3 linked regions of the Homo sapiens genome follow. The protein of the gene in region 1 interacts with the protein of each later gene in a biochemical or structural test. Each region holds a gene or a part of one and is shown in the gene's direction. Other genes may lie near its edges. The genes, in order: APPL1, SHANK1 and MAGI2.

Evidence for each region.
Region 2: the proteins of APPL1 (region 1) and SHANK1 interact in a test that uses a peptide from one of them, tested with the Homo sapiens proteins (one large-scale study listed by IntAct).
Region 3: the proteins of APPL1 (region 1) and MAGI2 interact in a test that uses a peptide from one of them, tested with the Homo sapiens proteins (one large-scale study listed by IntAct).

What each region holds. Positions count from the first base shown.
Region 1 is NC_000003.12:57,234,115-57,237,767, forward strand, and holds part of APPL1 (DCC-interacting protein 13-alpha), read left to right. Parts: intron 1-1,451; coding exon 1,452-1,550; intron 1,551-3,377; coding exon 3,378-3,437; intron 3,438-3,653. UniProt on the Homo sapiens protein: Multifunctional adapter protein that binds to various membrane receptors, nuclear factors and signaling proteins to regulate many processes, such as cell proliferation, immune response, endosomal trafficking and cell metabolism.
Region 2 is NC_000019.10:50,664,267-50,667,919, reverse strand, and holds part of SHANK1 (SH3 and multiple ankyrin repeat domains protein 1), read left to right. Parts: coding exon 1-1,728; intron 1,729-3,653. UniProt on the Homo sapiens protein: Seems to be an adapter protein in the postsynaptic density (PSD) of excitatory synapses that interconnects receptors of the postsynaptic membrane including NMDA-type and metabotropic glutamate receptors via complexes with GKAP/PSD-95 and Homer, respectively, and the actin-based cytoskeleton.
Region 3 is NC_000007.14:78,257,113-78,260,765, reverse strand, and holds part of MAGI2 (membrane-associated guanylate kinase, WW and PDZ domain-containing protein 2), read left to right. Parts: intron 1-3,653. UniProt on the Homo sapiens protein: Seems to act as a scaffold molecule at synaptic junctions by assembling neurotransmitter receptors and cell adhesion proteins. Plays a role in nerve growth factor (NGF)-induced recruitment of RAPGEF2 to late endosomes and neurite outgrowth.

The sequences.
Region 1 (3,653 bases):
GGCTGAGGCATAAATTATTTTTAGAATAAAAATATATCTTTTAGATTTTAAGCTGCAGTTATCTCCAGTAGTTATTGGTATTTTCATTCTTCCCCTGGGCCTTTGGGATGTAATGTGAGTATGTCTACCTTGCCTTTGATAGCCTTAGTTTCCTTATCTTTGACAAATTTTTATTGACATTCTTTTTTTTTTTTTTTTTTTGAGACGGAGTCTCCCTCTATTGCCCAAGCTGGAGTGCGGTGGCATGATCTCGGCTCACTGCAAGCTCCGCCTCCCAGGTTCACGCCATTCTCCTGCCTCAGCCTCCTGAGTAGCTGGGACTGCAGGGGCCCGCCACCATGCCTGGATAATTTTTTTGTATTTTTAGTAGAGATGGGGTTTCACCGTGTTAGCCAGGATGGTCTCAATCTCCTGACCTCGTGATCCACCCGCCTCGGCCTCCCAAAGTGCTGGGATTACAGGCGTGAGCCACCGCACCCGGCCTGACATTCTTAACATTTACTTATAAGCTTTCCCCCTTAAAATAAAGATAATTTAAAAAAATTTTTTTATTTTGAGACAGAGTCTTGCTTTGTCGCCCGCCCAGGCTGAAGTGCAGTGGCGTGATCTCGGCTCACTGCAACCTTCACCTCCCAAGTTCAAGCTATTCTCTTGCCTCAGCCTCCTGAGTAGCTGTGACTACAGGCACGTGCCACCACACCCGGCTAATTTTTTGCATTTTTAGTAGAAACGGGGTTTCACTGTGTTAACCAGGATGGTCTCAATCTCCTGACCTCATGATCTGCCTGCCTCGGCCTCCCAAAGTGCTGAGATTACAGGCATGAACTACTGTGCTCGGCCTAAAATGAAGATAATTTTTAAATGTGCATGGTAGAAAAATGACAAAACAAAACAAAAGCCAAACAATATAGACATGTATAAAGAAGAAGAAAGGAAAACCCCCAAATTGTGCATTCGGAAAAACCTAGTTAGCATTTTATATGCTGAAGAGTCGGCCATGTTGGGGAGGGTGTACTGTGGTATTTTTAGATTAGGACAGGAAGGGGTTTGGCCTCTTCTAGCAAAAACTGTAGAAGAAATAATCATACTAAATTATCCTGAAGTAAGACATTTAAAATATTTATACTACATGGAATGCTGTTAATTTAGCTTTGAACGTTTCTGTTGATTTGTTCTTAGTTTATAGAATTTTTAGTTTATGAAAATATACCTCTGTTGTTTCTCCTAAAGTTTGTGTGACATAGTTGGAAAATACCTCTGCTTTGTTGAAGTGAAACTAAGAACAAAAAAAAAAGACTTCTTAACATTACTATCAAAAGAGACAAAATAGATTAAAACTCAGAATTACTAGAACTTTAATATCCTACGATTTTTGCTTCCTTTAGAAAAAATATTTTTCCATCTGATTTGTATAATGATTAACATAAACTTATTGCTATTGTTTTATACAGACAAGGTCTTTACTAGGTGTATTTGAAGAAGATGCCACAGCTATTTCCAACTATATGAACCAGTTGTATCAAGCTATGCATCGGATTTATGATGCACAGGTAAAACACTAAGGACTAACTTGATGCTTTTAAAACACGAATCTTTAAGCCTCATGAGGACAGATAGTGTCTGTCTTGTTTACCACTGCTTTAGCCCTGTGTTAGGCTCATAGTAATAAATATTTGTTGAATGGATTAATGAACATTGAGTGTATTACAGAACTGACATTTCAACTACTAGTGTACAGTTTGTAGTACTACAAAAGTGATAGACGATTGAAGCATCTGCCCATTCTCCCCAAACATAGTTTGGGGGGAACCCCCCATTAAACTCACTGATAGTGATCTTTCCTAAGATTTGAATGAAGACCCCATGTCATCACTGGTATTTTCCCTAATCATGCTTATTACAATCTTATGGAGCACTTCCCCACCCCCACTTTTTTTTTTTTTTTTTGAGATGGAGCTTTGCCCTTGTTGCCCAGGCTGGAGTGCAGTAGTGTGATCTTGGGTCACCACAACCTCCACACCCCAGGTTCAAGTGAGTCTCCTGCCTCAGCCTCTCAAGTAGCTGGGATTACAGGCATGCACCAGCACGCCTGGCTAATTTTGTATTTTTAGTAGAGACAGGGTTTCTCCATGTTGGTCAGGCTGGTCTCGAACTCCCGACCTCAGGTGATCCGCCCGCCTTGGCCTCCCAAAGTGCTGAGATTGTACCCAGCCCCCTTTTTTTTTTTTTTGGAGATGGAGTTTTGCTAATGTCTCCCAGGCTGGAGTGCAATGGTGCAATCTCAGCTCACTGCACCCTCCACCTCCCAGGTTCAAGCAATTCTTCTGACTCAGCCTCCTGAGTAGCTGGAACTACAGGCATGCACTACTACGCCCAGATAATTTTGTATTTTTAGTAGAGGCAGGGTTTCACCATGTTGGCCAGGCTGGTCTCGAACTCCTGACCTCAGGTGATCTGCCCGCCTCGGCCTCCCAAAGTGCTGGGATTACAGGCGTGAGCCACTGCACCTGGCCAACACTTTCCCTTTTTCAGTGGAGGATTTGAAAGTTGGCTGCCTCTGTCTAGTTAAAAGAAGGCACTAAAAATTAGATGTACCTCTGGAGTACAAGAAGATGAAGGGTATGACTAAGTTTTCTTATTGACCAGCAATAAAATTTGAAGCTATGTTTGGATAACTTAATTATAAGCTTAAACAGCAACCTAGGTTCTGTAATATACTTTCTTTGGGATTAATTAAGCGTACAAGTTTTATTTTTTTCCCTTCTCATATTGTTTGCTTTCTGGCTTCACATTTTCATTATGTACTTAAGAGTTGCTATGTTGTTGTTTAGTTTTTCCTTGTGATCAGGCTCTGAAGCTTTGCTTTCTGACTACAGAGATATATGATTAATATGTTAAAGAAATGTTCTCTTTGTTATATTCACCAAAAAAACTAAATTAAAGTTTTTCATATGGCTGTGTTGCTATGTTATATGACTGGGTCAACCACATTTTGGTTGTATGTTATTAAGTGCTTACTGTAGTCTAGTATCAGCATCTACAGAGGGCAATAATCAGTCATCAACGTAGATGCTCTAAAGATTTTGCTAAGGTTATATCAGTTTATTTCTAGGCTTTAAAGTATTTAGTGCTTAGTTTTTATTAGCAAAAAACAAACACCAGGAACACTGCTGAATTCCTGGAGAGTGTCTATTTTATGGTTTGAGTTTTCTTTTAAAGTGCTTTAATGGTAGTACCCCTTTCCAGTGATTTAATGAAGGTTTTAAAAAACATGTACAATATTTATGTTAAGTGATAATAAATAAATTAGGTATTTAATTAGAAAAAACTAAAACTTTTTTCCCAGTAATATGCTAATTTGAATGCTTTTTCCATAGAATGAATTAAGTGCAGCAACACACCTGACCTCAAAACTTTTAAAAGAATATGAAAAACAGGTATTGTATATCAAAGTTTTAAAAGCATAATTTTAAAAGTATAGTATCTGTATAGATAGACTTTCAACAAGAATCCTTAAGTTTTCTTGAATTCACAGAATATGCCATTGAAATTTCATGATAGCACTTATGTTCAGATAATTTTAATGATTTAATATTAAATACAGAGGCTATCTAGTTTACTTGTTTTCTTTTTACAAATGAAGAAGCTGTGAC
Region 2 (3,653 bases), on another chromosome or scaffold:
GGATCCCGCCTCCCCGCTGGGGCTGGCCCTGGCCGCCCGCGAGCGAGCGCTGAAGGAGTCCTCGGAGGGCGGCGGGGCCCCCCAGCCGCCTCCCAGGCCCCCATCGCCCCGCTACGAGGCCCCGCCGCCCACCCCGCACCACCACTCGCCCCACGCCCACCACGAGCCAGTGCTGCGTCTCTGGGGGGCCTCCCCGCCGGACCCTGCGCGCCGGGAGCTGGGGTACAGGGCCGGGCTGGGCAGCCAGGAGAAGTCCCTTCCCGCCAGCCCGCCCGCCGCCCGGCGTTCCCTGCTACACCGCCTGCCGCCCACCGCTCCCGGGGTGGGGCCCCTCCTGCTGCAGCTGGGGACGGAGCCCCCGGCCCCGCACCCCGGAGTAAGCAAGCCCTGGAGGTCCGCAGCCCCCGAAGAACCCGAGCGGCTGCCGCTGCACGTGCGGTTCCTTGAAAACTGCCAGCCCCGGGCCCCTGTGACGAGCGGAAGGGGTCCCCCCTCGGAGGACGGGCCGGGGGTCCCGCCGCCCAGCCCACGCCGGTCCGTGCCCCCCTCCCCGACCTCCCCGAGGGCCAGCGAAGAGAACGGGCTGCCCCTGCTGGTCCTGCCGCCTCCCGCCCCCTCGGTGGATGTGGAAGATGGCGAATTCCTTTTCGTGGAACCGCTGCCTCCGCCTCTGGAATTCTCCAACAGCTTCGAAAAGCCAGAGTCGCCCCTCACGCCTGGGCCTCCCCACCCGCTGCCCGACACACCTGCCCCTGCCACCCCGTTACCCCCTGTGCCACCCCCGGCTGTGGCCGCAGCCCCTCCCACCCTGGACTCCACCGCATCCAGCCTGACATCCTATGACAGCGAGGTGGCCACCCTGACCCAGGGGGCCTCCGCCGCTCCTGGGGACCCCCATCCACCAGGCCCGCCTGCCCCAGCAGCACCGGCTCCCGCTGCCCCACAGCCTGGCCCGGACCCTCCGCCTGGCACGGATTCTGGCATCGAGGAGGTGGACAGTCGGAGCAGCAGTGACCACCCACTGGAGACCATCAGCAGCGCCTCCACGCTGAGCAGCCTATCTGCCGAAGGTGGTGGCAGCGCAGGGGGTGGGGGCGGGGCTGGGGCCGGTGTGGCCAGTGGGCCGGAGCTTCTGGACACCTATGTGGCCTACCTGGACGGCCAGGCCTTTGGGGGCAGCAGTACTCCCGGCCCGCCATACCCTCCTCAGCTCATGACTCCCTCTAAGCTCCGGGGCCGGGCGCTAGGAGCCAGCGGAGGCCTGCGGCCTGGCCCCAGCGGGGGACTCCGAGACCCTGTTACCCCCACCAGCCCCACCGTCTCGGTGACAGGGGCTGGAACCGATGGGCTGCTGGCCCTGCGTGCTTGTTCAGGACCCCCCACGGCAGGCGTGGCGGGGGGTCCGGTGGCTGTAGAGCCAGAAGTCCCACCGGTGCCCTTGCCGACGGCCTCCTCTCTGCCCCGGAAGCTGCTGCCCTGGGAGGAGGGCCCGGGCCCACCGCCACCACCTCTGCCCGGGCCCTTGGCCCAGCCTCAGGCCTCAGCCTTGGCCACAGTAAAAGCCAGCATCATCAGTGAACTCAGCTCCAAGCTTCAGCAGTTTGGGGGCTCCTCGGCAGCTGGCGGCGCTCTGCCCTGGGCCCGAGGAGGCAGTGGGGGAGGCGGAGACAGCCACCACGGGGGAGCCAGCTATGTCCCCGAGAGGACCTCCTCCCTGCAGCGGCAGAGGTAAGCGGGGGCTGGTGGCCAACAAGGGAGGCCAGAGGTGTTGATGGCATGGCTGTGTCCCTTTAGGGTCTCAGGGTGGCAGAAAGGAAACAGAAACCAGGTTGGCAGGAGTTTGCTGTCACAGAAGCATGCTTTCACAAATATTTTCTTTTTCTTTTTTTTTTTTTCTTTTCTTTTCTTGAGAGGGAGTTTCACTCTTGTTGCCCAGGCTGGAGTGCAATGGCGTGATCTCGGCTCACCACAACCTCTGCCTCCCGGGTTCAAGCGATTCTCCTGCCTCAGCCTCCCATGCCACCACACCCAGCTAATTTTGTATTTTTAGTAGAGATGGGGTTTCTCCATGTTGGTCAGGCTGGTCTCGAACTCCCAACCTCAGGTGATCCATCCGCCTTGGCCTCCCAAAGTGCTGGGATTACAGGCATGAGCCAACATGCCTGGCTTTTTTTTTTTTTTTAGAAACAGGGTCTCACTCTGTCACCCGGCTGGAGTGCAGTGGTGTAATCATAGCTCACTTGCAGCCTCAAACTCCTGGGCTCAAGCAATCCTCTGGGACTATAGGTGCACGCCACTATGCCTGGCCAATTTTTCTTTTCTTCTTCTTTTTTTTTTTTTTTTTTTTTTTTTTGAGACAGAGTCTCACTCTATTGCCCAGGCTGGAGTGCAGTGGTACAATCTCAGCTCACTGCAACTTCTGCCTCCCAGGTTCAAACGATTCTCCAGCCTCAGCCTCCTGAGTAGCTGCGATTACAGGTGCCCGCCACCATGCCCGGCAAATTTTTGTATTTTTAGTAGAGATGAGGGGTTTTGCCACGTGGGCCAGGCTGGTCTTGAACTCCTGACCTAAGGTGATTCATCCCACCTCGGTCTCCCAAAGTGCTGAGATTCCACACATGAGCCAGCATGCCTGGCCCTGGCCATTTTTTCTTTAACTTTTTGTAGAGACAAGCTACGTTGACCAGGCTAGTTTCAAACTCCTGGGCTTAAGTGATCCTCCTGCCTTGACCTCCCAAAGTGTGATTACAGGTGTAAGCCACTGGGTCCAGCCTTTAAATTTCCATTTATTTCAGTAGCTTCTGTTGTCTCTGCCCATCACCATCACAACCTACATCCCATGATGAACAAAAAGTTATTAACAGGCTGGGCGTGGTGGTTCACGCCTGTAATCCCAGCACTTTGGGAGGCTGAGGCGGGTGGATCATGAGGTCAGAAGATCGAGACCATCCTGGCTAACACGGTGAAACCCCATCTCTACTAAAAAAAATACAAAAAATTAGCCGGTCATGGTGGTGGGCACCTGTAGTCCTAGCTCCTCAGTAGGCTGAGGCAGGAGAATAACTTGAACCCGGGAGGCCGAGGTTGCAGTGAGCCAAGATTGCACCACTGTGCTCCAGCCTGGGTGACAGAGTGAGACTCCGTCTCAAAAAAAAAAAGTTATTAACAAAGGAGACTGGAGTGAGACCTGCTTATGTTTGTTTCCTTGGTGAGCTGCCACTTCTTTCTGACAGTCCCTGAAATCTGTGAGTCCCTTGAAGCCAGTGTGGTTCAAGACAGGATGCAGTTATAGGTGTGGTTCTAGAGCCCACCTTCTCAGCTTCCAGTCCCAACCCTGCACTTTCTACCTGGGTGATCTTAGGCAAATGAATCCACCTCTCTGTAGAAGTGGAATGGCCTAGTGCCAGCCCAAAGAGTTTTTGAGAGGATTTAGTGTGTGCCATTGTTGTAACATGGGATGGGGGAAGAGGGGGCCTCGAACAAGAGCCCAGCAACTTCTACGTGGGGAAATACGGGATGATGCAGATGCTTCCCAGAGCAGCCAGTCAGCTGCATCGTCGCAGAATTCGAGCCCATTCAAGACCTTCTAGTCCTAGAGAAAGTAGAGTTACATTTCTGCTTCAGATACACAGAGGGTTGGGAGCAGGTTTTAA
Region 3 (3,653 bases), on another chromosome or scaffold:
GTGTGAGACCAGACCTGTGGGACACCTAACTCATCACTCACACTCAATCTGACCAACAGGCCTGAGGTCAGTAGCCCTAGAACTAACCTAAATATGGCCTGAAGTGAATGACCATTTAGCAAACAAAGTAAATTTTCCAGCAATGTAGTAATGAAAATATATGCTTAGCTTTCAAAAGAAATGTATCTTCTTATTTTTATGGAGAAAAAATTTGATAAAATTATAAGTATTTTCACAAGGATGATCTCATTTTCACAGTAGCTCTGCAAAAGAGGAAATGTAAGAGATATTTTTATTCCCATTTTATAAAAGAAGAAATTGAGAGATGGGGAGATCAAGTGACTCTTCCAATTCTCCGTCTTAAGTAGGCCAACAGGTTAGAGCCAGAGCCAGTCTTCCTGATGATGTCCCTTTCTGTGCTCTTAAACCCAATCTGTCTGAGGACTTGGCATGGCACCGTCAGATGACATATACCAGGTGTCTTATATTTTTATTTCACGACATGTAAATGACATTCATACAGCACAGTCTATTAATATTCTATCCAATAAGTTCTATCTGAACAAGCAAATGTTTGCTGACATCCCCGTCTATAAGAGTTTTGGGCATGACTTATTATCTAGACATCTATATATTTTTTTAAAGTGGGCAGTTGAGTACCATCAAGTTGTTATATAGTTTTATCCTGTGATAACTGACCACTCATCTTTTACATTCAGAAATCTTCTACGTATCTTCATAAAGATATTGTTGCAGTGTTCTTTATCCTTGCCTGATGACTTGAAAAATTGCTGTTAGTGGAAAATATCCATAAATTGTAAAAGGCAGTCTTACTAAGAAACACAAATAGTTCTCACTCTGTTTCTAAATAGCAAGATCACATTAAAACTCAAAAATAGGTAACATTAATCACTACAATTCAAACTACTACTCTCTAGACCTGGCAGGGAAACTTGAGAGCTTTCAACATAACCCTTAGTTCTTTCCCGTGAAATTCTGGCAGAGCAGAGGGAAGGAGAGAGCGTGCTTGGGGACTGGGGAGTCTGTTAACAGTGATTAAAGTTAGGGAGAGCCTTAGAGGAAGTGGCATTTGTTACCTCTCTGACTTTTACTTGGCCATTCAGAAACCCATTGTTTCCACAATCATACTCAAGTCATCCTTGACTGTAACTGTGGTGGGAATATCTGGGTAGAACTGTCCTGATTTTATAGAAGAATATAACAAAGGACAAAGAGTAATTACTGAAATAGCAATCATCTTTTGCATAACAATTTACAGCTTAGAAACCCTTTCACCTGTATGATCTCATTCGTTATTTCCCATGGAACAATAAGTTGCTATTACTATTGTTCATCATTACTTCTAAAAAATCTGAGTCACAGAGGATTGAAGCCAGTTTGGGAAAGTTATACAGCTAATAAGTGATGAAACTAGAACTCAGACCAAAGTCTTTTGACCTCATATCCCATGTGATCTCTACTATACCTTGCAGCCTCCTGAACCTAAGAAGAATGTTGGAGCAAGAATGAAAGTAGACATAAAAAATAGTCAATGAGTTAAAAAAAACTCACTGAATAGGAAATTGAGGAAATGAGGCATACCCAAGAGAAAATCCAAAAGGCCAATAAACATGAAAAGATGCTCACCTTCACTGGCAGTCTGGGAAATGCAAATCAAAACTATGATCACATCCATTAGATTGGTAAAAATTAAGTCTGAGAATACGAAGTACTGTGTCAGATGTAAAGCAATGAAAATTTCAACACACTACCGATCAGAGTGTAAATCAATGTGACCTCTTTTGTCAGCCATTTGCCACTATCTAACAAAGTTGAAGATGCACATGGTCTGTGCCAGCATGGGGTTCATAGCAGAGTTATTTTCAATAGCCACAGATTTGTCATAACTCCGGTGTCCATTAACAAAAGAATGGATGAATGTTATTAAGTAGTAATATAGCCATCACTAAATACTGTATTACAATGAAAACTAATCAACTAGAGGCACAAGTATCAAAATAGATAAATATCACAAACATATTTTAAGAAAAGTTACAGAATATTAAAATATATACCATTTACAAAAGGCTTAAAATATGTAAAATACTTTCCAGGGATTATTATTATTTAGAGATTAGATACTATTTAGAGATATTGTTTTTACGGACACCTAGATATGATATAAATTATAAAGGTATATGTAAATAACAAACCTCAAATAGGGCAATGGTTACCTTGGAAAGGGCTGTAAAGGAGTGCAAGTTGGGGGAGAGGTGCTAGCCAAGGGGGATTCAACTAATATGAGCAATGTTCCAATCATTAAGTTGGATGTTAGTATACAAGTATTTGTTGTTCTTTCAACCTTTTAAATGTAGAAAATATAACATTAAAACTAAAAGAAACAGGAGAGAAAAATAGTCTATCTGAATCAGACACTTCTCTGGGACACTGAGATGAATGGAATCAATTAAAAACGATTCCCAAAGCATCCCCAGCTGCCACAGTCTGAAGAGGAATTATAATAACAGTGAGGGAATGTCCACTCCAATTCAGTTCTGAGCCGTGGACCCACGTTCCAGCCACCACATCAGTACCCTCTCTGATAGACATTATGGAAAAGTGAAGTTCCATCTGACCAATCACATAGGTTGTGACATTTTCTAGAGGCAGACCTAACCTGGATCCCTGAAAATGTCTGCTTGGCCTCTCTGTCAATTTGGGAAGAGGGACTGTTAATTAAGACAATGCTGTTAATTGTTTTATTCATTTTATGTTATACACCTACAAAAGACCAGAAAAGTTGTCAACTCTAAAAGTTCAACTCTGTTTTTCATTTTTAACGTTTGCAAGCTTGCTGGGCAAGGATGTCTCAGAATGAAATCCCTAGCCATTTGTACCTCCCATTCCAGAATTATTCTGATAAACTGATGTCTGTTGAGTTGCTTATTTCAAGATCTGTGAAAACATGTCTCTTCATCCCTAATATACTCCTCAGCATAGTCAGGCACAATCTCAATTTGCAAGCTCAATTTTCAAGTATTATGGTTTGTGAAGATAAAAATACCAATCCATGATAAAATAGTTCTCCAAAAATAAAATTGTTATTCATACATAATTGAAATTTTTAAAAAAACATTTATCTCAAACAGCCATGATTTTCTGCATTTTAAGCAGGAAAAAATATTTCTCTGAATATATTTTATAATGGATAATTTGCATTCAGAGCATTTCTAATCATAAAGTTAGCCTCTAACCAGTAGACCTCTGAAAATCTGTGATAGTTCACTGGGGAGAAAGGACAAGTGCCTTTATTGAAACTGATCCACAGAAATATTAGTTTATCTAAGATCAGAGGATGAACTGTGGCAACTTTCTGTTTGAAACCAAGGGACCCAAATCTCCTCCATCCTATTTTAACAACAATCATATTAATAATAGTCCACATTTATTGAGCACTGTGTGTCATACACTATGCCAAGTACTTTTCCTACATTATGTCATTTCATTCTCACAACTTTACAAATGAGGAACTGTGGCTCAAAGCAGGGAACTTGGTCAATATCATGTATCTGTTAAATAGTAGAGCCAAGGTGTCAACCCAGCTCCCTAATCCCAAAACCTGCACCCTTGACCTTTGCTCGCATATACATGGA